4 separate regions of the Homo sapiens genome follow, and regions 2, 3 and 4 are each linked to region 1. The links come from fine-mapping of genetic effects on gene expression. A gene starts in region 1. Each other region holds a variant in brackets. All regions are shown on one strand. Distances are from middle to middle. Region 1 holds the start of ROR2 (receptor tyrosine kinase like orphan receptor 2). Region 2 overlaps ROR2 (receptor tyrosine kinase like orphan receptor 2). Region 3 overlaps ROR2 (receptor tyrosine kinase like orphan receptor 2). Region 4 overlaps ROR2 (receptor tyrosine kinase like orphan receptor 2).

What was found. PIP is the estimated chance that this variant, and not a neighbour inherited with it, causes the effect. A credible set is the group of variants that fine-mapping cannot tell apart.
Region 2: its variant is the best candidate, but not a certain one, in a credible set for the expression of ROR2 in prefrontal cortex (ROSMAP, PIP 0.58).
Region 3: its variant is the best candidate, but not a certain one, in a credible set for the expression of ROR2 in subcutaneous fat (GTEx, PIP 0.73).
Region 4: its variant is the best candidate, but not a certain one, in a credible set for the expression of ROR2 in thyroid (GTEx, PIP 0.57).

What each region holds. Positions count from the first base shown.
Region 1 is chr9:91,947,957-91,952,968 of GRCh38, forward strand. ROR2 (receptor tyrosine kinase like orphan receptor 2) reads right to left here and starts at 2,272. Exons shown (of 9, transcript NM_004560.4): 1 at 1,911-2,272. The coding sequence starts at 2,007. RefSeq lists enhancers at 1,063-1,564, 1,565-2,064 and silencers at 2,258-2,437, 2,551-2,845.
Region 2 is chr9:91,883,606-91,888,617 of GRCh38, forward strand. All of the region lies in intron 1 of ROR2 (receptor tyrosine kinase like orphan receptor 2), which reads right to left. Among named protein-coding and RNA genes, the nearest start is that of ROR2, 64 kb to the right of the region's middle. RefSeq lists enhancers at 1,872-2,455, 2,456-3,039, 3,040-3,621. The variant G/A (reference allele first, on the strand shown) is at 2,792.
Region 3 is chr9:91,920,960-91,925,971 of GRCh38, forward strand. All of the region lies in intron 1 of ROR2 (receptor tyrosine kinase like orphan receptor 2), which reads right to left. Among named protein-coding and RNA genes, the nearest start is that of ROR2, 27 kb to the right of the region's middle. RefSeq lists enhancers at 1-670, 671-1,511. The variant A/C (reference allele first, on the strand shown) is at 2,527.
Region 4 is chr9:91,899,963-91,904,974 of GRCh38, forward strand. The region is part of intron 1 of ROR2 (receptor tyrosine kinase like orphan receptor 2); the gene reads right to left. Among named protein-coding and RNA genes, the nearest start is that of ROR2, 48 kb to the right of the region's middle. The variant C/G (reference allele first, on the strand shown) is at 2,625.

The DNA of each region.
Region 1 (5,012 bases):
TTATATCCTATGCCCTCTCCTATAAAGATTATGAGTATTTCACTAGAAAAAGAACAGGGTTCAAAAATTAAAGAAAACGACTCCAATTGCTTTGTTCATATAAGACATTTGTACATTCACTGGAAACTATGAGTGTTTAAATTCCTTCACCCAAAACTCAAGGAACTTTCCTGTTACAACCACCTTGGCTTAAGCAATGGACCCATCATGCTTTCCTCATCACCCATCTAAAAACCCCCACCACAGCACCGCCCCTCAAAGGCTGCGCTCAACCCTCATGGTCTGCAAGGCAGAGTTTTTGTAGGACAATTAACCGCAGGGTGAACAGCAAAAGCCGCCCAACAGCACGTCCAGCAACGTGTTTAAGCCGCCTCCCCGCCACCCCTCTCCCCCAGCAAAGGGATCTCCTGGGAGATTCTTGGGGGAGGGGTTGCAGAAATCGACAGAGGTCTTGAGTGATGGATACCAACTTAGAATGTGGTCTACTTATTTTATTGTGCACTCTGAGCGGTTTATGCTTTAATGCACAGTGAGATAAACGCAAGCTCCCTTCCCAAATCAAGTAATTAGGAATGTCTGACGTAATCAACATCTGCTTAAACTAAAACCCCCCCCCAGGAAAGACTGTGCAGCCTTTCTGACTCGCGTACCTTGGGCCGGCTAGGGCGGCAGGCCAGGATACCTGGAGCGCGCAGCTCCCAGCAGGACGCAGGAAAAGCAGAGCGTCTCCCAGCCTGCGACTGTCCCGATTCTCACCTTCCTGCAGGAGTGCAGGGATGGGGGATACTGAAGCCCATTTACTAGTAAGAAGTGTCTCACACATTCCGGGGGCTTCAGGCGAACCCCATAGGTCTCTGGCGCTCCTGGGCCTGAAGGCCCCGCCCGCCCTCCTCCACCCCCGCAGGGTGCCGAGAATCCGGCCCGAGGCGCGCGGGCGGGAGGTGCTCCCGGAGTCTGCACCGCCAGAGCTAACGCCGCCTCCTCCAGGCAACCTAGGCAGGTCCCAAGCTGCACTTCCGAACCTCCCCGCCGTTCCTCTGCGCCCCGGATCCAAGCAGCCGAAACCGCGCAGGGACTCGGGGGAAGTGGGGCCCCGGGAGGAAACCCACCTAGGAGCCGGGCCCCGCCCCTCCCGCCGCCAGCCTCCTACAGGTCCCGGGGGTCCCCCCGGCGCGGCCAGAAGGCGGCCGCGCCCCAGCCGCTCAGGGACCCGCGATCCCAGTCACAAACCATTTCAATCCAGATCACACACCACTTCGGCCACCCCAGAGCGGTGGGGGAGAGGAGGTTTCAGGGACCAACAAAAGGGATGCCAAAGAGCCCGTTTCCATCAAGCGGCCCGCGGGCTGGGAAAGTCAGGACCCGGGAGCCGCCGGCGCCCCCACCCCCGCCGCAAGAGCCGCTTCTCCGGGGCCACGTCCACCCCAGGATTCTGCCAGGCATCAGGCCGCCCTGGGGGTGGGGGGACGCTCCGAGACAGACGGGGGACACTCGGGGCCGTGTGCCCTTGAAGGAGGAAGACCTCGGGGAGGAAGCCCGGGTCCTGGGACCCTCGGGGCACATCTGCGGACTCGGGTCCCGGGCCCAGGGCGGGTACTCACATTCACACTCGCACTCCCACTCGCGACCCTCGGGAAGCGCCACCGAGAGGCTCCCAGCCGCCGCCGCCCGCCCCCAGACTCTGGAAACACTTAGGCGTCCCCAGAGCGCGGCTTATTGTAACCAGCCCGAGGGGGTCCGGGGTGCGGGCCGGGAGCGGCGTCGGGCGAGATGCGAATGGCCCTGCCTGGCGCCCCTCGTTCAGGAGCATGGGCGCCGGCGCAGCGGCCGGGAGCATAGTGGCGGCGGAAGGGCTGGCCAAGCGAGCCGTGAGCTACCGTCTGCGCACAAGCCGGAACGCCAGATCCTACCTGAAGTCCGGGACACTGAGAGCAGAAGCGCGGCGGCCGCCCAGACGGCCGGGATGCACAGCAGCGGCCGCCGCGGGAGCGCCGAGCCCCGGGCCATGCCGCAGGCAGTGGGGGCCGGGAAGCCCTCAGAGCTTCGGGCCGGGGCGCGGGGTCGGGCGCCACCACCCCTTTCTACGATGCGTCCGCTCCTCCTTCTCCCTGGCGCTTCGCAAACGGGTCCACTTCGAGGACCTCGTCGTCGTCCTCTTCTCCGGCCCGGATGCGCCGCTCGGCTCCGGCCACGGCAAGGGCTGGCTGGGGAGGTTCCTTGGCGCGGGCTGGGGCGTCCCGCCGGCCGCCAGGACGAGCGCGGGGGGCGGACCGCGGGCGAGCGCGCAGGAGGCAGGGTCCCCGCTCGCCCGCCCCGATGGGCAGAGCGAGGCTTGCGCCGGCGCCCCCTGCCGGGGGAACGCGCGGGCGGCGGGCGGGACCCAAGGAGCTGGGGCTGCAGCTGGGGCCCCGGACCTGCCTCCTGCGCCCGCCCTCGGGCCTGCGCCTCGGAACGCTTGAACACAAAGGTGGCGCCTTGGGGGCGTCAGCCGGAGTTCGGCGGGTCTGCCCACGCAGGAGAGGCGCCCAGAGCGGGTGCCCCCGACTTTCGGGGGCGACACACCCGGGGATCTAGGTCACAAATCAGTAACTCCAGGCTGCACTGCGCACCGGGACAAATCTGAGAGCCACCCAGCCCCAGACACCAGCGGTGAGGCAGGAAGAGGAGAAGCGAAAGTTGCAAAAGGAAATGTTCAGGAAAACAAACAGGCCGCCTTGGCACCGGCGCCCTCCCAGGTCGGTGGGGACAAGCGCGTCCCCCGAAATGCTCAAAACTGCCAGGGGTCGAGCTGCGTGGAGGGAGCCCTCGGGAGCGCGATGCTATCCGAAGCCACCGCGGCTTTTGGTTTACTGTTAAAAGCAAATTGTATAATTTTACCCATTAAAGGCAGAACACTATTTGTTCTCTGCAGAGGCCCAGAATGTGCAGAATTTGCTTCACTTATTAGAGACATTTTGAACGGAATTCAAATAGCATGTTTTCTTGCTTATTCTTGGTTTTGCTCAGCACATGCAAATGTCTTTGTTTTTCCTCTTAGAGGAAGGAATTGGATTCTCCAGCATCTCAGTTGCTTGTTCCATGAGATTGATCTTTTAACTGATTATCCAGCAGTTTGTTTGGTGTTTTTGCTGGAGTACCAAGCTCTGTTAATTGGAGGGCATTAGGGAGAGCCCTGGCCTTGGGTGCCAGACGTGAGGCCTCAGACGTGGCCAGAAATAAAAACTCTCTTGCTATGGTCTGCGGACAAAATGACTAAGCCAGCTCTAGCTTGTTACCTCTGTTAAAAGTATTTAGGCGTCCGGCTATCTCTACCCAATTTGTGTAGGGAAATATCTCACGCAGTTCTCATTCCCAGGAGCTGCTGTAAATCCAGTAGGAGAATGGGAGAAGATCCTAGCCCCTCCTCAACTGGATGGCAAAATTATTACCAAACTTCTTAGACGGGCTCAGGCTGTTCCTCTGCCCAGGCTGGTGCGGGTCTGAACGGGGGGGCTGCTCTCCCCAGTGGTTAGAGGACTGCCAGGGGTTTATCTTTGGGGTTTTCCTCCCTTTAGCTTCCCTTAGAATCCTTAAGGATGCTTTTAGAGTAATGTTTTAAGAGTAGGTGCTGAAGCACTTAGTTCCACACCCCTCTCTTCTGGATCTAGGGAAAACCCAACAGGGGCTGCAGAGAAGGGTCTTGAACCTGCCCTGGAAAACCCCTCCCTCAGCAATGCTGTGTCCTTTCCGTGGTGCTGTGCAGCTCGGAGAAGGTGGTCCCAGCACCTTTGCTTTCCACTTCACACAGCGTGAGCATGTGGCTCCAGAACCATTTCATCAGCAGCCCTGCCATTTATTTTTGTGTGACCTTCAGGAAAATGACCTCATCATGCCCCCATCTGTGTGTTATTTTCACATGACTGAGGCCCCACAAACCCAACTCAAAGGTTTAAACAGCAACATATATTTTGCTGACAGTTTCTTGGGTGGAGTCAGAAATGTGGGTTATATTGCATATGATTTCTTAAAAGCCTTTTAAAGCTTTCTTTTTTGGCATTTCTCTCTCACTCTCTCCTTCCCTTTCTGTAGGTTCTGAACTGAAGGATAAACAAAAAAAGCAAAGTTGGAAGGATGAAAATACAAGCTTTCTCAGTGGTTAAGAGAATATGGCTTACGTCCAAGGCCAAATTGGAGCAACATATTCCTTTCCATCTGTATTAGTCATCAATTGCCACATAACAAATTGCCCCACGATTTAACAGCTAAAAACAGTAAACATTCGTTATTTCACACCATTTCTCTGGGTCGAGAAGGCAGGAGAGACTTAGCTAGATGGTGCTGGCTCAGGGTCTCTCAGGAGGTTGCAGTCAGATGTCAGCCAGTGCTGCCATTATCTGAAGGCTCGCTGGGGCTAGAGGAGTCTCACAAGGTGGATTACTCACATGCTCAGCAAGTTAGTGCTAGGTGTGGATGGGAAGACTCAGTTTGTAGCCACGTGGGCTTCTTGGGCATCCTCACAAGATGGCTTCTAGCTTCTCCCAAAGTGAGCAATCCAAAAGAGAGCCAGATAGAAGCCACAGTGTCTTTTATAGCCTAGCCTTGGAAGTCACATGCCATAATTTCTGCAGTATCTATTGGCTCCATGGGTGGGCCCTTTGTCATAGAAGGAAACTAAACAGGTTTATATATACCAAGAGATAGGAATCACTGGAGGCTGACACCACACCAGCTGTATGGGGACAGCCATTTTCATCCTTGTGATGAACAGCAAGCAAGAGGGAGAGAAAATGAGCAGGGTCTATACTAGCAAGACCGGCGGGAACAAGCCCTTGCAGGCCTTAAGAAAGGAGGGAGCCATGCACATATCTGGGAAGAGTATTTGAGCTGGAGTGAAGAGCCAGTGTGAAGATTTCAAGGCCAGGGGTATCCTGGGATATCTGAGACCTGGGTGGTTAAATTATGTGGTTTAATTCACATTTTCCTGATGAGGAGTCATATTCTATATTTTTTCTTATGCTTATTGGCCGTTAGCC
Region 2 (5,012 bases), 64 kb before region 1:
AGAACATTTCTATCATTGTAGAAAATTCTATTGGACAGTGCTGCCCAACAGAATTTGATGGACAAGAGGCCTTGGAATGAGACTCCTACGCACCAGAACCCTCTCTCACTCCAAACAAGAAACACACCCCACCCACTGTACTACTGCCCATCACACCTCTGAAGTGTCCTTGCAGGAAGTTAGTGAATCATTTCCAACAGAGCCCTTGCTAGCGCTTAAATCACCACCAAAATCCCTTCCCCTTCCAAGGTCCTGGTGGCCTCGGAACCCCCTTCTCAGCCCCCTACCCAGGGCCCCTATCTAGCATGAGTTGCATCTGGAGGTAAAATCTCAGGGGATTTCACACCAATGCAGTGCCATGTTATGGCCATTGAGACAAGTACACAAAAGAAACCCAGAGAGAAAGCACACTCACCATCCTACCACGGAGCTAGAACCAAAGCTCACTCAACAAAAATGGAGCTGAAGGAGTCACCAAAGGGAAGCTCTGTACTTCTGAAGTCAAGGTACTTGAGTACTAATCCCTTTCTTTTCTCTCTGGTTTCACCAATCTGATCATCTGTCAATTAGGTTTCAGTTTGACCTGTCCCTCATTCAACACCATCTCATAAAACCCACCTCTCCTGTCTGTGTGATGGCTTCTGCTGAAATACATCCAAATAAACACAGGCAGCAACAGACCAGCCAAGGCTGTTCAGATAAGCATTTTAGATCTCAACCAGCAGGGATGTGTGTTGGTGGGTACCCCTGTGACAGGGAGTCTCAGTCTCCTCCAGGAGTCATGGGGGGTGGGGGGAGGCTTCAGGCATGACTTGTCTAATTGGCCTACAAAAAGAATTACTTACTCTCCACTTACCTTTGATTACCTTTAAAAAAAAAAAAAAAGGCTTGCGGGGGGCCTTCTAGGTACAGAAATTCTGTATTCTCCATTCCCCAATCCCCAGGCCTGGTTTTCTAAGATAATTTTTAATATTGCCAGAATATTAATGCTGAAGGGTTTTATCTAAATCTTCTCCCTGATCTGACGATATCTGACAAACTCATTACTCTCTTGGATTTTTGGCTGGAACTGGAGCTAACACATCCTGCGGGCTGTCATACACATTCAAGACTCTTCCCATCCACAGACCATAACATGTCTCCATTTCCAGTTTGGCAAAATTTTTTAGTCTTTTTTTTTTCTAAATGAATGTCAGGATATAATCTGGATACATATTAACATGCACAGAACTGAGTCCAAAAACGCTTTGAGGCCAATTTTTAAAATCATATTTTCTAAATTAAGTCATCAACTTCCTGTGCTGGGAAGTGATCAGTTGGTTGGGGAGACCATTTTATTGCCTTAACTTGGTATTTTCTGTGTTATCACTGCAAGCTTACAAAGCCTTAAGAACTTAAAGCCTCGCGAACTTAAAGAGCTAACAAGCCTGTGTGTGGCTCACGAACCCCACCCCTGGTAGTTCTCAGAACCCAACATTGCAAAGCCAGCAGCTCTCTCTAGTTCCCACCTTTCTCCAAAATATTCTCTGGAAGGCATGAGCCTCTGCATCCCAATTCTCTCCCATTTGTCAATCAAACCCAAGGAAACTCCTTTCCAAATGGCAGTGTGGCCTGCAGCTGGCCAGAGAACAAAGCGGGAAGGCAAACAAAGAGCAAAGGGCACCGGAAAACTTTAAAAAGGAGCCTTTGTTGAAGCTTTGGGGGTTGGGGGGCGGTAGGGCAGGGTGTGGAGGGAGATGGGGATGTCTATCACTCCAAAGGCCCTACTGTGGGATCTCCAGGCGGGAATAACCATCCTTCAAGGGCTTTGCTTTTAATAAAACCTAATTCTCAGCCCATTATCTCCATTCCTTGCACAGAGTGGAGGGGCTTGGGATTCCCCAGGACTGAGCAGCGTGTGGCTCCCGCCTGGGCCTGCACCAGGGTGGCTATGACATGGGACCTAAGGGAAGGAGAGGCCAAATGCCTGGGTGAGACCGAGATCTGGAAACATGCTGGTCCCCGCCAAAATGTAATTCCAAATAGAAATAACAGGGAACCCTAAAAGTGATCTACAAAAGCCCTGCCCCAAGGTTCTGATTTTTCTCCCACATGACCACTGTGATGCGTTTAAATCAAATCAACGAATCAAAATACCTAGGTCTTATCTAAATCCTGTTGAATAACACACAAAATAAAACAAAACTCATGAAATAAACAGGAAAATGTGAACTGTGAATATTTTATATTAGGAAGTGCCTTTTTAAGTAGCAGTATGGTTTCCTTTTTTTTTTTTTTTTTTTTTTGAGACAGAATTTCACTCTTCTTGCCCAGGCTGGAGAACAATGTCGCAATCTCAGCTCACTGCAACCTCCGCTTCCGGGGTTCAAGCGATTTTCCTGCCTCAGCCTCTCCCGAGTAGCTGGGATTACAGGTGTGCACCACTACGTCCGGCTAATTTTGTATTTTTAGTAGAGACGGGATTTCACCATGTTGGTCAGGCTCGTCTCGAACTCCTGACCTCAACTGATCCACCCGCCTCAGCCTCCCCAAAGTGCTGGGATTACAGGCATGAGCTACCGCCCCCGGCCATGGTTACTTTTTAAAAGGCGCATTTATCTTCTGGAGACATAAAGATGCCATCTTAAAGGGGTTTCACATTTAGAGGAGCAGGAGAGGAGGCCATGTGAACAGCCCAGATTGTTGGAGCCAGCGGGGACCCACCAGGGCCATCATTCTCCCCCTCCCCTCGCCATTTCCAGGGTGCAGAGCTAGACAGAACTGGACCGACAGCGTGGGCCGGTAGACGTCG[G/A]CGTGTGTCTACACCACGGCCTCTGCACACCCACTTGCTTCCTCCCCACACCGCGATCTGTCTACACCAGGGTCTCTGCTTACACCACCGACTGTGCACCCACGCACGGCGCGGCAGCCCCTCCGCCCGAGTCACAGCCTCTTCCTGCCCTCACGAGGGGACCCGCGACCACCACTCCCCCGCCCCGCCCTTCCCGGCAACCCCCGGCCCGGGCTGCTCCGGAGGGTTAAGCTATCCCTGACCACACCGCCTCTACTCGGGAAATACAAACCAAATTCCGCTCCCGGGATGAGGTTTCTCTTCTCCTGAAGAAAATCAGGTTTTTCAGCTTGGGGGTGGGAAGGCCGTAATTGCAGGACTCAGGGGTGCTTTGCCTGCAGCAGGGAGATTCACAGATGAAAGGAAAAGATAACGTTACCTGCTGGGGCATCTTTCTTCTCACCACAGGTCACGAACCCACTACTTACCATTTAAGAGCCCGCAGGAGAGGATTCCTAGGGATATATAAATACAGACCCAGAAGGGACTCCCCTGACAGTCAGACTGCCTGCCGTGTCTTTTATCCAGGACTGTCGGGAAATACAACCTCTTCAAAAATCCCGAGTGAGGCCGCTTTCAACTTCTCTGGCTCCCAGAGCAGATGCACAAAGGCAAGGCTTGCTAGGACCCCTGCGGTCGAGGGCCTTGGGTTGCTACTCCAGGTGACAGCCTCCCATCCTAGGCAAAGGGTACATTCGTGGGGAGGAGGAAATCTTTTGAGAGTTCCATTTCTAACATCCAATTATTTGAAAGTTGCCATCGGTTTTATAGGTTTGGAAACACAGTATTTTAATTTGGTATGTAATATTTCAGATGCATTCCAAAAAAGTGAATGAACACACCAGGCCAAATGAAAGGCTTATTCTTTTCTCGAGCCCCCCTCCAATGGCACCCACAATCCTGAGTTTATATTAATATAGTACTTCCCTACAGTATGTATCCCAGAGCAGTACGCAAGATTTCCTTGCATAGGTTTAACCTTTACATAAATATCAAGCCTCCTACAACTTGTATTTCCTGCTCAATGCTAAGCTGTGAGATCTATGTTTGAACATGTGGCTCCAGTCAATAAATATATCACAAGTTTTTTCCCACTGTTCTGTGGGTGAACATTTGGGTTACTTGCAGTTTTTGCAAATTCCAAAGCTGTTATGAACATTCCCCTTATGGTTTCCTTGCGCCCTTATCTGAGGGGTTCTCTGACCTATGCCTGGGAATGCAATTGCACTGAGTAGGAGAAGCATGATTCAGCTTTTCCAGTAATTGCTAAATTGCCCAATAATGTAGGTATAACGGGGCGTACAAATTCAACGCCCTCCAGCAGCTTCTTCTCTCCATAACACTTTTTTTCTCTTTTTTTTTTTTTTTTTTTTTGAGATGGAGTCTCACTCTGTCGCCCAGGCTGGAGTGCAGTGGTGCCATCACAACTCACTGCAACCTCTGCCTCCCGGGTTGAAGCAATTCTCCTGCCTCAGCCTCCTGCGTAGCTGGGATTACAGGCACGAGCCACCACTCCCAGCTAATTTTTGTATTTTTAGTAGAGACGGGGTTTTGCCATGTTGGTCAGGCTGGTCTCAAACTCCTGACCTCGTGATCTGCCCGCCTCGGCCTCCCAAAGTGCTGGGATTACAAGCGTGAGCCACCATGCCCAGCCTCCATAACACATTTTTGCCAACACTTCGTATTGTCAGACTTCTATATTTTTGTAAATTTGATGGCATCAATGCTTTTTCTAGACTTTTGTGAATTTGATGTTACTTCCTTGTGATTTTAACTGTGTTTCCCAGGTTCATGAGTGTTTGGAAGGTCTCCTCCTAGTGAACTGCCTGTTTATATTTTTGAGATCCATTTATTTAGAGCATAGCTGAACATGGATTTAAAGACTTAAAGGTACAAACAATGGACTACAAACACCACTGCTCAATGGGAAGCAAATAGTGCCAGATTAGAGGACGCAGATGCAGGAACACACCTGGGTAAGAATCACAACCTCCTCTTCCACTGGACGCTGATACCCTCCTGCAAGACTCAATGAAGACACCATTTCATCCTAGATCTCTAGCCACTACTGCAAGACACTCCTAAAACTCCTTCCTGGCTTAATGTCTCTGTCCTACCCAGGAACAAGTGAAGCCAGGCTGGGATGCGATTGAAGCTGTAATCAACACTTCTGCCTCCCTGC
Region 3 (5,012 bases), 27 kb before region 1:
GCCAGAGACTGTTTAGGATAGCCAAGCCTCAGACAGCTTGTGTGCAGTATCATTGCCAACAAACTGGACCTCCACCCGAGGGGGTGAACACAGCACTGTGGAGTGGACACTCATGTCCCATCCTCAACCAGGTGCCAAATGGCAGGTGGCCAGCCACAAGAAGTAGCGGACAGGAGAAGCACTGTCCCTTCCCCACAAAGGGTCCCACAAACTGGCCCTGGGCATGTCCTAGTGCTCTCTGACCTGCAGGAAAAAATGAATCAAGACCTCAACCCCATATCAACAAAGAAGTGGCTACTTCAGCCTAAGTACATGCAAAATCAGTCCTTCTTTAATATAGGGGAAAGTTAAAACAGGAATTCCAAATTAAAAGTAATTATATTTTTTCCTCCGTTCTTAAATATATACACGTATACACACACTTACATATATGGCAAAAGTAAAGCAGAATCAGGAATAGAATGCAGAGGCTGTGGAAATCCCAAACCACACTGGCAAAAGAGGACACTTTTCAAGAGCCTGTGCTTAATTGCAGACCAAGCCGCAGGCCTCTTTGTGTCACCAAGTTCTTCCCTTCTAACTTCAAGGGGATGGTAATGTTTAGTCTTTTAAAAGTAAATGAAGCCGGGTGTGGTAGCTCACGCCTGTAATCCCAGCACTTTGGGAGGCCCAGGCGGGTGGATTACTTGAGGTCAGAAGTAGGAGACCAGCCTGGCCAACATGGTGAAAGCCTGTCTCTACTAAAAACACAAAAGTAGCCAGGCGTGGCGGCGCACGCCTGTAGTCGCAGCTACTCAGGAGGCTGAGGCAGGAGAATCGCTTGAACCCGGGAGACAGGTTGCAGTGAGCCAAGATCGCGCCACTGCACTCCAGCCTGGGCAACAGAGACTCCGTCTCAAAAAAAAAAAAAAAAAAGTAAATGAAACTCTAACAACAATAATAAAAAGACAACCCAAGGTGAGATTGGGCAAAGGATCTGAATAGACATTTCTCCAAAAAAAAAAAATACACAACTGGCCAAAAAGAGCATGAAAAGATGTCATCATTAGTCACTGGGAAAATGCAAATCAAAATCACAATGAGAGACCACTCCACAGCCATTAGGACTAGGACGACTATTACCAAAAAACCAAACAACAGCAACAACAACAACAACAACAACAACAAACAACAACAACAAAAACAGAAAACAAGTACTGTTGAGAACGTAGAGAAATTAAAACCCTGGAATACTGCTGGTGAGAATACAAAATGGTGCAGCCACTGTGGAAAAGTCTGGCAGTTCCCCAAAAAAAAAAACATGGAATGACCATGTGATCCGAAATTCTACTGCTAGGTATGTACCCAAAAGAAATTGAAGACTTGTGAATGAAATGTTACTTGGAAATCAACAGCGTCTTCTCTGAGTCCCATCTTCCTTGCAATCAAATAAGAAACAGGTTAAATATCAACAGTTTGATGTCCATACTGAATGTTGTTCTACTTAAATAATTTTTTTATTTTTTATTTTTTGAGATGGAGTCTCACTCTGCTGCCCAGGCTGGAGTGCAGTGGCATGATCTCAGCTCACTGCAACCTCTACCACCCAGGTTCAAGCGATTCTCCGGCCTCAGCCTCCGAAGTAGCTGGGACTACAGGCGCGTACCACCATGCCCGGCTAATTTTTTGTATTTTTAGTAGAGACAGGATTTCACCATGTTAGTCAGGATGGTCTCGATCTCCTGACCTCGTGATCCACCTGCCTTGGCCTCTTGAAGTGCTGTGATTACAGGCAGGAGCCACCGCGCCCGACCAAGAATATTTTTTAAAACTATTAGATGGGAATCTTCTCCAAAACCTGTCGACTCCTCAGTGTCCTCTCATGTCAGGCTCTCCAAATCAGCTGCATAGCTGCTGCATCCAACCCCAGTCCAGCTGCTCAGCCTTTTGCCCTCCTTTCTGGGTGCACACTGGGGCAGCCTGCCTCTCAAAGCCCTGTCCTCCAACAGACTCACTCTGCCTCACTTCTGCTGGGCATGACCTCCCCACTCCCCACTGCCCAATACAGCTCCATTCCATCTTCACATACATAAAGCCTCTCCCTCATGCCAAAGAATAGATGTCTGTTACCTAAGTAGCTATGCCAAGGAATTCAGTGATCACCTGGACAGAGAAGATGCCCAATGTATTTTATTCAATAAGCTAACAAGTTAGCAGCCTCTAGGCACAGAGCAGGTGCTCAGAAAGTACTTATGACTGGCCAAAATGCTGGGGATGAGGCAGTATAAAGCAGCACTGCCCAACTTGCTGTGAAGAGGGAGAGTGTCTCTATCTCCACTGTCCAGTGTGGCCTCCAGCCACATGTGGTATGTGGCAACTGAGCACTTAAGTTTGGCTAGTGCAGCCAAGGGTCTGTTTGTAATTTTATTCAGTCTGAGTTAACTTCAATTAAATAGCCACATGTGATTAATGGCTATCAATTGGACGGTACAGCTACAGAACAATGCACACCCTGGGCATCCTCCTATATCCAGAAATACCCAAGGT[A/C]AGGAAATTTGCAGATGGCTAATTTAAGACTTGGCAAGCAAAACAAAGCTCTGGAGACCCAGGGTTGAGGAAATGTGCAAAACTCTGAACAAAGGCTTTCTTTTTAAAATTCACATCTAAACCATAACAGGACCACAAATATTACATTTTTTCTTTAGCAGTAATCAATAACTCATCATTTATTTCAAGTTGACGCACTGACTTTAATATTTTAACCCTCACATGCAATTTTACCAAAGTGCTTATAAACTTGTTGCTTGTTGCAAATAATGTACACACAAGGAAGGCCGTTTTCAGGATGGCATGGCTATCCGATGAGTCAGTATCTTTTTGATCTGAGAGATTCCAAGCTCCCTGAGTTCCTTGGTGGTCCCAGAGATGGAGGAATGCAGGTGTCGTTCTTCAGGTGGCAGAAGTGTTGGGTCAACTGTCCTGTGTGGCTCCTGGAATGAGAGCCGAGGAGAAATCAGGGCACATGGGTGCCTTCCTATTCCAGGGTTTGAGGATGTTCTCATGCATCCCAATTGCAGTCCATACTTGGACCCTCATCAGGCCCTGAAATCCGTCTCCACTACAACATTGGCAGCTGATTCTTTCCTGCTCTCCCCAAGCTGCTGTTCTGCTGCCTGTCTGCACTGAGTAGAACTGAGCTGGTACTCCATGAATGGGAGGGACACTTGAGGGCAAGGTCTTTGTCCTCCATGGTAGGTGATCCCTCCTGCTGCCCAGCCCTTTTCCTATCCTTTGTCCCCACTCCCAACATCAGGCATCCTGTGGTCACGCTGGGGACTGCCCGGCCATCCCTCCTAGTCCCTGCGGTGGAGAGAGGCAAGGGGAGGACTGGAGGAAGGTGTCCATCGGGTCTCAGTCCCTTGTGGTGGAGTGACAGGCAGCTTCAAGGCCAGTGGCTTCTGCCTGCGTCCTCCTGTCCCAGGCCCTCTATGGGAATCACAGCCAGTGGATCTCAACTTTTACGTGCATTAGAGAGGCACAGATTGCTGAGTTCACCTCAAAATTTCTGATTCAGGCCGGGCACGATGGCTTACGCCTGTAATCCCAGCACTTTGGGAGGCAGAGGCGGGCGGATCACGAGGTCAGGAGATCGAGACCATCCTGGCTAACACGGTGAAACCCCATCTCTACTAAAAATACAAAAAACTAGCCAGGCGTGGTAGCGGGCGCCTGTAGTCCCAGCTACTTGGGAGGCTGAGGCAGGAGAATGGCGGGAACCCAGGAGGCGGAGCTTGCAGTGAGACAAGATCACGCCAGCCTGGGCGACAGAGCGAGACTCCATCTAAAAAAAAAAAAAATTCTGATTCAACAGACGCGGGGCAGGCCCAAGAGTTTGCTTTTTTTGTTTTGTTTGTGTGTTTGTTTGAGACAGGGTCTAGCTCTGTCATACATGCTGGAGTGCAGTGGCACAATCATACCTCACTGCAGCCTCAACCTCCCAGGCTCAAGCAATCCTCTCACTTTAGCCTCCCAAGTAGCTGGGATCACAGGCACGAGCCACCACACCTGGCTATTTTTTATTATTATTATTATTTGTAGAGATAGGATCCCACTATGTTGCCCAGGCTGGTCTCAAACTCTTGGGCTCAGTAATCCTCCCATCTTGGCCTCCCCCAAAGTGCTGAGATTACAGGTGTGAACCACTGCACCTGACCATGTTTGCATTTTTAACAAGCTCCCAGGTGATGCTGATGCCAGTGGTCCAGAGACACCACTGAGAGAACCATCGCTGTAGGGCCCTAGTCTTCTAGAAGAGGACACCCTCATGACACCAACCATCTGCTCATCTCATAGACATTAACTTACACAGCTCTCAAGAACGCACTTCCCCCAAGATACAGCCTTCAGCCATCCCAACAGCTCAGCCCAAGCCCACGAGACCCAGCCCCCAGCTCGGCAAGCTCTGTCCTTGCTCAGCACAAGTGAGCTCACAGGTACACACCCCTGACAATGCTGTCAGCTGCCTGTATGTGTGTGTGTGTGTGTGTGTGTGTGTGTGTGCAGCATGCATATGCACTTGTTTTGGTGCCTGGCACATGCACCCATTTCTTCTCAAACTTATGACTTACCTCCACACAAGCCCCAATTCCCAATGCCCTCGCCATCCTTATCCTCCAACCCCAAATACATGCACACACCTAAGTTTCTTGGATGGCAGAAAACCAACAGATGGATAATCCATAGGAACTCAAATACAGAGTAACAGCAATCCTATGTCAAGAGTGCTTGCCAGAGAGCCAGAGAGAAGAAAACTCGCTCACTCTACCCTTTCATTGCACAGAATTTGGGGGACCGATCCTGAGGTGTGACACCACTCTGGGTTCAACAGACACCTGGGTAGAGAAGCCACCAACTGACCTCAGAGATGGGGTTTCCTCCTGGTGAGAAACAAGTCACTTGGCTTCCACGCACTCTGCCTAATTTCTCCTGCATGATTTGCGTGCACACTTAAGAAGACATCCTAGGCCTGGCGC
Region 4 (5,012 bases), 48 kb before region 1:
TATTAAAGTATAAAATCTACATTTGACCTGTGAATGCAGGCTTGATAATTTAGTAAAACATTAATCGATAAGTACCTAGAGACCAAAAGAATGCCAGCCTGGAACCCACTAGATGCACTCACCAGTAAGATAAGTTTTAAAGCCTGCAAACTGACAGACAGCAAGTCAGCAGGGCTCCAGATAAGCCTCCCTCCAGTGCTGGGCAGGCCCCCAGATAAGCTCAGGATGCAGCGGGTCCCCCAGGGCCGCCAGGGGGTGGGGGGCAGGGCCCCAGCAGCCTCGCATCCAGAGGCCCAAGCGCAGAAGCAGAAGCAAACTGGACGCCGCAAGGGGCTGCAGGAAGGGCAGACGGCAGACGCAAGTCCTCCAGCTGCCTCCCGCACAAGATGGTCAATGACAGCGGCTGAGAGGCACAGCAGGCAGCCGACCCTGGCGCAGGCCCCCCCACGCAGGGAACGGTGGCGGCGCGGGGCAATCCTCCGGCTGCCTGGAGCAAGAGAGGCTGGCAGGGACACGAGGGCGCCGGGCCTGCACGTGGGACCCGCAGGAAACAAGAAATGAGGAAGGCACCGCGTGGCATCCAGAACATTCAAAAGCAGCCAAGGAGGCGGGAAAACGACAAGCTTCTGGAAGAGAGTGCTGACAGTGAACCAGGACAGGCCCCAGGAGAGGACTCCTCGCGGGGCACGTCGGTTCCATGGACTGGGGGCAGCTGGGCCGCCAAGGCCACTCCCACCTAGAGTCAGCACTTGTCACAAAACCACAGGCTTAAAAGTCCTTCAAATTGTCAGGACCATTAGACCCACTTCACACCTCAATTCTGTGCAAACAGAGGCATAGGTTCCAGCTTGAAGGGAAAAAAATAATAAGCCAAGAATGCACATCTGTTTTTAAGAAGGAAATCCATTATTAATTAAAAAGAGCAACTAGGAAGCAAAGTTCTGGGAACTGAAACACACATCGTTTAATCAGATACTGGACTATAAATCCCTTTTCTGGGCAGATTGTTTTTTAAGCTGAAGGGTTTTTAATGTGTACTACGAGGAAGCTGCACAAGGGGCCCCTCAGCTCAGCCAGACTGAATCCAGAGCCAGGAAGGTCGGGCAGAATCCCCCTCCACTCCACCATCCTTCAACTAGAGAAAAGAACTGTCTTGTAAAACTGTGTTACTTGACAGCCCAACTATATTCTTCTGAAATGCAAACTATACTATAAATAGGTATACTATGTTACATGGTATGTATAACACATAAATTATACAGCATATTTAGTATAAGTTAGACTATCTCCAACTGTACCCATGGGAAATGCAAATCTGCATGTCAGTAGTTTGTGAATGTTTCTGATACCTGTGGGATATCATGAAACACCAATAACTAGGAGGTAGTGATAGTTTACTAGTTGCCTCAAGTATAATCAAACCAACAGTGTCCTTCCTCACTGGCTTATCTTCCCACCCACTTAGAACTAAGATCTTTGTTTTCCAACAGGAGAAAAGGCTCACGTCATTTCAAATGTGGGCTCAGTACATTATCTGCCTTCTACAGGGGGTTAAAAATAAAAGTGCTCTGGGATGGGTGTGGTGGCTCATACCTGTAATCCCAGCACTTCGGGAGGCTAAGGCAGGCGGATCATCTGAGGTGAGGAGTTTGAGACCAGCCTGACCAACATGATGAAACCCCATCTCTACTAAAAATACAAAAATTAGCCAGGCATGGTGGCATGCGCTTGTAATCCCAGCTACTCAGGAAGCTGAGGCGGGAGAACTGCTTGAACCCAGGAGGTGGAGGTTGCAGCGAGCCATGATCTCACGAATGCACTCCAGCCTGGGACTCCATCTCAAAAAAAAAAAAGAGTGCTCTGAAAAAAAAAAAAGCAAAAAATAAAAAGGAGCTTTGTTTATTTTTCCATAGCTACTGTGTGAGGAAAAGTCAGTTGTACCTTTGCCAGGTGTAGGTGGGGGGGCCTACCCTCAATTCTGGAGCAGCAGGCCAACAGAGCCAGAGGCACTTGAAAAGAGGCCATTCGCACAGAATACCTCCCTCAATTCATTCAACCAGTCCCAACATTTAATCCACACAACGGTTAACATTCCTATTTTTCAGATGCAGAAACTGGGGCTCATGGAGATGAAATATTTAGTAACTCACAAGGGCTCCCCACCACAGATGACGGCCTGATTCATCTAAGTAGTCAACAAGTAAGAGATGCATACTCACACAACAAAGAAGAGGAAGGAGAAACAATTATTTTTAAAGGTTTTCTCAATTTTCCTTTAATTCTTTCTTCATAGTAGAAATATCTCATTTCTAAACCAAAGCTCAATTTCTATCCTCAGGTATCACAAAATGAAGTAAACTTCCCCTTCGCTGTCAGGGTCTTTTCCCTTCTTTCCCTCCAGGAAACCCAAATCCCAGGCCCTCCATCACCTCTCCACCAAGCCCACCCTGCTTGTACCTCTCACAGCCAGGGCCTTCCCACGCCTCAGGCCCCTACTGAAAACAGATCTCAAAAGCAGTTCCCGATGGGGAGCTGGGTGGTCGTGGCTGTGAGCCGCCTGAGACCTCCTGAACTGCCAAGGATCTCCGTTAACACCAAGGGCCCTCCTTGGGCGACCCTGCCCC[C/G]ACCCCCAACAGACACCATGGGGCCCTCCCTGAGACATCCAGCATCAGTTGGAGAGCTCAGTCTCAACTGAAGCAACAAGAAAGGGACACTGTTAAGCTCACTGTAAGAAGAAACCGCTTCATCAGCATGGAGTTAATATGTAAACATTTTATCTGCACTGGCAAAACAAATGACTATTTAAAAACCATATCCTTAGGAATGGAAATCTGACACATGCTGCAACATGGATAAGCCTCGAAGGCATGCTAAGGGAACCGGGCCAGTCACAGAAGGACATAGACTGCATGTTCCACTTCTACAAGGTCCCTAGGGTGGTCAAATGCATAGAAACAGAAGGTAGAATCGGTGGCTGCCAGGGTCTGGGGGAGGAGATGGGGGAGGCATTATTTAATGGGTGCAGAGTTTCTGTCGGGGATGATGAAATGAGTTCTGTGGATGGCGGTGATGGTTGCAAAACAATATGAATGCATTTAATGCCACCAAACAATACTTATGATGGTAAATTCCATGATATGCATATTTTACTATGATAAAGAAAAAAATACATATACTTAAACAAAAGCAAATAAAAAAAATACATGTTCTCCCCTAAAGTATGAGTGCATGGAAAATTAAAACTGCCACATCCAGAGAGCAACAGGATTTTTTTTCTGTGCCCCTGACTGCAGTCGGCCCAGGAGGAACCCAGATAGATGCTGCATGGAGGGGTCTCAGATGCCCACACCCCAACCCGCTGGCTTCCCCTGCCCAAGAAAGTCTGGGAAGGGTGATCTGCTCCAGTTCTTCCCATCGGGCATCAACTCACTTCTACAACACAAGCCCCCAAAATAAATGGAAATGAGGCTGCTGGAGTGGTCTGTGGCCCCAAGAAGTCGATTCGTTGTGTCTTTTTTTTTTCTCCTCAAGTCAAAACTTAAGCCATTCCTACATCTCCAAATTCTTCCATGGAGTATTTTCAAGGCAGACACTTCTGGAACAAACAACCCCAACCTAAATATTTTCTGTAAAGGGAAGAACAAAGATTTTCTCCTAAACCAGCCCCTAAGTCAGCAAATGGGAAGTGGTTTCCCCACATTCTCAACATCCCCAAAGGGACAACTGCCCACCCCTTCCCGGTGAGCATTCGACAACTCTGTAGACAAAGAGGAACAAAAACAAACGCAATTGGCTTGAGACGGGGTTTACTAGGAGCTCATAAAAATACCTCAGACTGGGGTCGTGGAGAGAGTCCACGGCAATAAAATGCCCATACTTATTTTACGTATTTAAAGGGATATTGCTGCATTCTCAAAACAATATCCATTTAATTTCCAAAAATACAGTCAGTGAACAGCTGAAATATTTTTAAAGGAGAGTGGTTTTAGATATTCAAAGAAACATGTGAACCATCCCACAAGGTAGGAATCACTGCCCTGACAGGTCATCCTTTTTTTTGATTTTTTGTTTTTGTTTTTGTTTTTTTTTGGGGGGGGGGACAGAGTCTCGCTCTGCCGCATAGGCTGGAGTACAGTGGTAGGATCTCGGCTCACTGCAACCTCCACCTCCCAGGTTCAGGCAATTCTCCTGCCTCAGCCTCCCGAGTAGCTGGGATTACAGGCATGCACCACCACACCCGGGCCCAGGTCATCCTTTTTTAACCACAAAGCCAGATTTGGCACCAGGGATCATGGAAGGATCCCGGGGTGAGGAGGTTCCTCAGATCAGAAACTCAGAGCTCCCTGCCTCCATTGTGCCTTGTTCACCTGACCTGAGGATGCCACAAGTTTAGCGGGTGGAGCCCACTGCCCTCCTAGCACCAAGAGCCCAAGAATGTTCCAGTCAGGCGGGCTCAGTCCATAAAGGGCTGGAAGGCCCAAGGGCTGGGGTAGGGAGCGGTAGGACCTGCGCCACGACCAACAGGCCATCGCCCTGGAGAAAAGCCATCCAGTCACAGCCTGGAGAGACCAGGCAGAGGGTGGCCCAGCCTTGTGGAGCAAGGAAGTGGAATCAGGCTTCAGGCCCATGGTGGGGGTGCCTTGGCGCTTGGAGCAGCCACCAACACTATAGGAGGGCACCCAGTGGCAGGCAGCAAGACACACAGGATGTCCCTTCCAGGCTGTAAAGATCCCATCTCCACCCCAGCGCCCTGGCTCCTACGCTCCACTGCTGGCTTTGGAGGCCTCCTCGACTCTGCCACCCGTGGCCTCAGGAACCTCTGGTTCCAAGTTAATGAGGCAAAGCCTCCAAAAAGGGAAAAAACAAACTGCTCATCACTCATTATTGCCTCCATTCTGGCTTACTACCTGGGACGGCTCCAAGGTGCACAGCTGCAGAACACACGTGTGCGCACACACACCACACACACAGCACATACACCACACACAAGACATACACAAATGTCACATGCC